2 separate regions of the Homo sapiens genome follow, and region 1 is linked to region 2. Evidence: fine-mapped expression QTL. Tissue or cell type: macrophages. Region 2 holds a variant in brackets; the other region holds the start of a gene. All regions are shown on one strand. Distances are between the middles of the regions.

Region 1 (2,925 bases), 800 kb before region 2:
CACGCCTGTAATCCCAACACTTTGGGAGGCCAAGACGAGTAGATCATGAGGTCAGGAGTTCAAGACCAGCCTGGCCAACATGGTGAAATTGTCTCTACTAAAAATACAAAAATTAGCCAGATGTGATGGCGGGTGCTTGTAATCCTAGTTACTCAGGAGGCTGAGGCAGGAGAATTGCTTGAACCTGGGAGGCGGAGGTTGCAGTGAGCCAAGATTGAGCGACTGCACTCCAGCCTGGGTGACAAAGCAAGACTCTGTCTAAAAAAAAAAAAAAAAAAAAAGAGGAAGAAGCAAAAGCAGAAACCTCTGATAAGCCCATCAGATCTCGTGAGACTTATTCACTATCATGAGAATAGCACAGGAAAGACCAACCCCCATGATTTAATTGCCTCTCCCTGGGTCCCTCCCACAACACGTGGGAATTCTGGGAGATACAATTCAATTTGAGATTTGGGTGGGGACACAGCCAAACCATATCACTTATTCAGAAATACAATGAGCATGTAATTTTTTTTTTTTTTTGTATTGGCCCAATCTAGTTTTGAATCAAGATTACATTAGCTTCATAAAAAAGGCTGGACAATTTTCTCTTTTTCACTTGCTGCAACAATTTGTGAGATAAAAAAATCTGTCTCTTGAAGACAGGTAGAGCATATTTGTAAAGCTATCTGGGCTTTAGGGAGAGGAGCTATGATTAGCGTTTCAATTTCTTTAATGCTTGTTAGTCTATTCAAGTATACTATATCTTGGCATTTAGTATTTCCCCACAAAGTTGTCTATAATATCTAAAGTTTCACATTATTTGGATACAGTTGTTCATAATACTCTAAAAACTTTTTTTTTTTTTAGAAAATTTCGAATACATTCAAAAGTGGATTGATAAACCTCTGGTGCTTCAGCAGTTATCAATTCATGGCCAATGTTGTTTCATCTAGAGCCCCGCCCACATCCCCTCACAATTCTTTGAAGTAAATCTCTGACATTGTATAATGACACCTGCAAATGCTCCGGTAAAAATCTTCAAAAGACAAAGACTCTTTTTCAACCTGTTCACAGTGTCATTACCTCCTCCCCAGATAATAATTTATCAACATCAAGAAACTCCCCATTAGTGTTTAAACTTCCAATTTTCTCACAAATGTCTTTTTTTTTTTTTTTGGCGGGGGAGATAACTTTGTCATTTGAATCAGAATCCAAAGTTTACACATTGCACTTGGCAGACCTGCCTTTTAATTTCTCATAACCTCTGTTTCTTTTCAGCTTTCTGTTTTCCTCCCAGAGTTTCCTATGATTGCATCTCTAGTTTGACACGTTCCCTTGTCCTCTGTATTCCTGTAAATTGGTAGTTAAATCTCAATCTGATACAGAAGGGCTGGGCTCCCAGCTAAACCCCACCCCTAAGCCAGGAACCACCGCCCTAAGTGAAAACAGGTGATCCTGGTTTTCCAAGCAAATGTTGCCTTTTTGGCCTGCCCCGCCCCTATCCTGTGCCCATAAAAGACTTCAGCTGGCAGCGCAATAGAAGCGGCTGAGCGGCGAGGATACACGCAGCTGAGTGTCAGAGACAATGGATAGATGCGGCTAACTTCAGACGGTGCGGCTTCAGAGAGGGACCTGGCCGGAGACTGCCGGGCTTCAGAGAAAGCTCACGTTCCCATCTGCTTTCCAGCCTCCCTTTCCGCTGAGAGCCACCCACCGCTCAATGAAGTCTTCCGCATTCATCACCTTTCAAACGGTTCGTGTGAGCTGATTCTTCCTGGACGCCAAACGAGAACTCAGGTGCCAAGAGGGCAGGGGCTACCACCCTGACTCTCCACTGAGCTGGTTGGCACTTGGCCGTACCTGGACGGCAGAGCTGAAAGAGCGCTGGTTGAAACATGCATGGACACTGCTGTGTAGCATGCATAGAGCCTGCTCCCTCCAGAGAGGAGCGACCGGCGGGTTCTGGGGTTCGTTTGCTTGGGTTCCTGCACCCGCTTGCTCTTACGCTCCCCCATGCGAGGAGTGGCCAGTGACGGGCTGAGTGAAACGAGCCACTCCAGTTCCTGCCCATGAAGGGGGTCAAAGGAACTATCCCATCTCAAATCCATGATCAGGTTTAGGTTTGATATTTTGACAACGTTACTTCAGAAGGGTTACTGCAATTACATTATTCTTTCATCTTTGTTGTGCCTGTAATTGTTTTTCCCCCTTTTTCATTGTAGGTTTTATCTATTGCAATTTCATTTTCTCACTCTTTTTCTTTTTTTCTTTTTTCTTTTTTTTTTTTTTGAGACGGAGTCTCACTCTATTGCTCCAGGCTGGAGTGCAATAGTGTGATCTCGGCTCACTGCAACCTCCGCCTCCCAGGTTCAAGCGATTCTCCTGGCTCAGCCTCCTGAGTAGCTGGGATTACAGGTGCGCACAACCACGCCCAGCTAATTTTTGTATTTTTAGTAGAAATGGGGTTTCACCATATTGGCCAGGCTGGTCTTGAACTCCCGACCTTGTGATCCGCCCGCCTCAGCCTCCCAAAGTGCTGGGATTACAGGCGTGAGCCACCGTTCCTGGCCTTTCTCACTCTTTTTCTCGATCAGTCTTGCCAGAATTTTATTTCACTAATCTTTTCAAATAATTAGCTTTTGATTTGGTCATTTCTTTCTGTTTTTTCCTTCTCCATTTTATTGATTTTTGCCTTTCTTTACTTATTTTTCCTTCTTGTTTCTTGGCTCTGTTGATCTTATTCCAACTTCTTGAATTTACAGTTTTACTTGTGTTTGAAGTTATAATTTCTATCTACTGCTGTAAGTCCTACACATTTTGATACATTGCCATTTCATTGATACTCTAAGCAACTAGCAATTTGCTATACTTTTTTTTTTTTTTTACCTTTTAAAATATATTATTTAGTTTCCAGTAATATGTTTGTATAAACTATCCCTCTGT
Region 2 (2,925 bases):
GAGGTCAGGAGATCGAGACCATCTTGGCTAACACGGTGAAACCCCATCTCTACTAAAAATACAAAAAATTAGCCAGGCGTGGTGGCCTATAGTCCTAGCTACTCAAGAGGCTAAGGCAGGAGAATGACGTGAACCTGGGAGGCGGAGCTTGCAGTGAACCCAGATTGCGCCACTGCACTCCAGCCTGGGCGACAGAGTGAGACTCCATCTCAAAAAAAAAAAAAAAAAAAAAGAAGCACAGAAGCACTTATTACTATATTACAAGCGTCATAAAATATATTTTAATAATTTTATTTCAATATAATTTGTTTCCTCTACAAAGCTATGTATTTTACTTTATTTTCTCAGAAGGGATCTTAGGCTTCACTAGACTGAAAAAGGAGTCCACGGCACAAAACAAGTTATAAACCTCTGTAAGACGCCAGATAAATATTTTTCACTTTGCGGGCCATAGGGTCTTTGTGGCAACTTCTCAACTCTGCTGCTGCAGTGCAAAAGCACCCACAAATATTAAGTAACTGAAAGACTGTGATTGTGTTTTAATAAAACTTTGTTTACAAAAACAGGTGGTGGGCCAGATTTGCCAACCCCTGAACTAGACTGATCTTTCTAAGACACAAAAACATTCATGTCATCTGTATAAAATTTTCAGTGGTTCCCTAAGCCCTGTATAATCTGACTCCAACTTGTCCTTCCTGTTTTCTTTTCCTTAAACTCGCAACCAAATACTTTCAGCCAGAGCTATTTTTAGCTTCCTGCACATATTACATACCTTCCCTAGAGTTTCAGATATGCTACATCCTATACCTGAAACATCCTCCCTGACAAATTCTTACCATCCTTCAAGTATCAATGTCAATCACCCAGTATAGCACAGTGATTAAGAAGAATACAGGCTCCAGAACAAACTGGGTTTGAATCCTAGCCCTGCTACTTATAAGCTGTCTGACCTGTGCATGTTAAAATGTAATAAAAATGAGCAATTTTGGCACTCTGACAATCATCATTAATGACCTACTTGCCCCATGTCACTAGAGTTTGTTATGTCATTAATAACTATATCAAAAACACTATATTAAAAATAAAATTCTTAACCAAAATCATACAAATTACTAACCTGTTGATGAAAGTTCTTTTTCTCCAAGAGAGCTAGAACTGTCAGAAGACAAACCCTGATCATCCTTACTTTCTGAGGAGTGATGTATTTTATCCTCTTCATCTGTGGACACATCAAGGGTTCTGGATTCTAACAGGACATTTTAAAAATACAACAAAAAAGAGTCAAAATAATGGAATTATTAATTGAAATTCTGAACAACACATGGCATATGTATAATACGGTGTTTTAATCCTAGTCCATATATTAAAGTAGACATATTGATCTTCCTCCAACTTTCTTTCTTAAGCAACTGAATGATCTACTAAGTGTACAAAGACCCTATTTGTATTATCTAGGCATCTAATAATATATTTCCAAAAGTATGCAATGAGAAAAGGGAAGGAGGCATTAGAGAAAAAAAAAGCGACAAAAAATGAAGTAATATTTAGAATAGTAATGATTGTGAATAAGTAGAAAAGAAAAATATTTAATGTATACTATGTACTAGGCACACTGAAACCTGTTTTACA[T/C]GACTTATTTAATACCTGTAATTCTATAAAGTAAATGCAATTTCTGATGAGTTCACTAAGGATTGAGAGGATAAAGAACACCAACTCGGGCAGTGGAGAAGCAGGGCTGTCAACCTAATCCCAGGCAACTTCAGAACTTAGGCTCTCTTTATAGTATGCCATATTTCAACGGCTGGTGGCGAGAAATATTGTAACGAGCACTTTGGTCAATATTAAACCATGGGTCCATCTTTTCAATGCATGATTTGGGAAGGTAAATAGTCTGTTAAATTCAATTAATCTGTTAAACAAAGATAACACCAAGATAAAACCCACAGGGGTGTTGTGAAAATTGAATGAACAAAATAAAGGAATTCTTGACATTATTGACAAGAAAGGATTTCTTAATCCACAATAAATTTGCAATCTTTATGAGTAACCTTAAAACATAAGATTACATACTACTCATTAATTTTAATTTTCTACCTTAGTTAGAAGACCTACATACAGTTCAAAAAAGGCTGGAGTAAAATCAAAATTTAAAACACTAAAAAAAATATAGCTGCAGCTCACATCTTTCTTAGATATTGTCATTTATGACAACCCATACCTGTTTCCAAAGTGGATTAACACCAAAGCAGTGGGTCTTAAAGCATGGTTTATCAATCCCTGGAGGTCCTTGAGACTCTTTCAGAGAGTCTGTGAAATTAAAACTACTTTCATCACAATAATAACATGTTATTTGTTCTTTTTACCATGTTGATATTTATATAATGAAGTAAAGGCAGTGATGGGTAAAACTGCTAGGCTCTTGGCATGAATGAATCAATTTGTAGTAGCAGTTATGGTATTTTTCCTTACCTCACATGGCAGAAAAAAGCCAGTTGCTCTTCATGAACTAATTAAAAAATTGTTATTTTATTAAATTTTGACCCTTGAGTACACATGTTTAATATTCTTTGTGACAAAATCAAAGTATTCATAAGGCACTTTTGCTGCATCTTGAAATGCAATGGCTGCCTTAAGGAAAAGCATTTGTGTGACTGAGTTGCAAGCTGAACTAGACGTTGTTTTTAAGAAGCATCACCATTTTACTTGAAAGAATGACTAACAAACCGATTATTCAGACATGGCTATCTGACAAACATTTTCTCAAAACATGAGCCCGGTTGTGCCTATCAATAAAATGAGAGATTTCAAGTGAAAATTGAGATTTTGGAAAACTTATATTCTCTACTGTGAACCTAACAGCTTTCCAGTACTTACAGACTGATTAATCAGTGGTAATACTATGATTTTTTTGGTATTGTACAATAA

Evidence for each region. PIP is the estimated chance that this variant, and not a neighbour inherited with it, causes the effect. A credible set is the group of variants that fine-mapping cannot tell apart.
Region 1: it holds the start of LINC01291, and the variant in region 2 is the best candidate, but not a certain one, in a credible set for the expression of LINC01291 in macrophages (Nedelec 2016, PIP 0.68).

Annotation. Positions count from the first base shown.
Region 1 is chr2:74,907,439-74,910,363 of GRCh38, forward strand. LINC01291 (long intergenic non-protein coding RNA 1291) reads left to right here and starts at 1,523. Exons shown (of 5, transcript NR_189601.1): 1 at 1,523-1,735.
Region 2 is chr2:75,705,406-75,708,330 of GRCh38, forward strand. It overlaps GCFC2 (GC-rich sequence DNA-binding factor 2), which reads right to left. Exons shown (of 17, transcript NM_003203.5): 2 at 1,118-1,246. Among named protein-coding and RNA genes, the nearest start is that of GCFC2, 4.0 kb to the right of the region's middle. The variant T/C (reference allele first, on the strand shown) is at 1,630.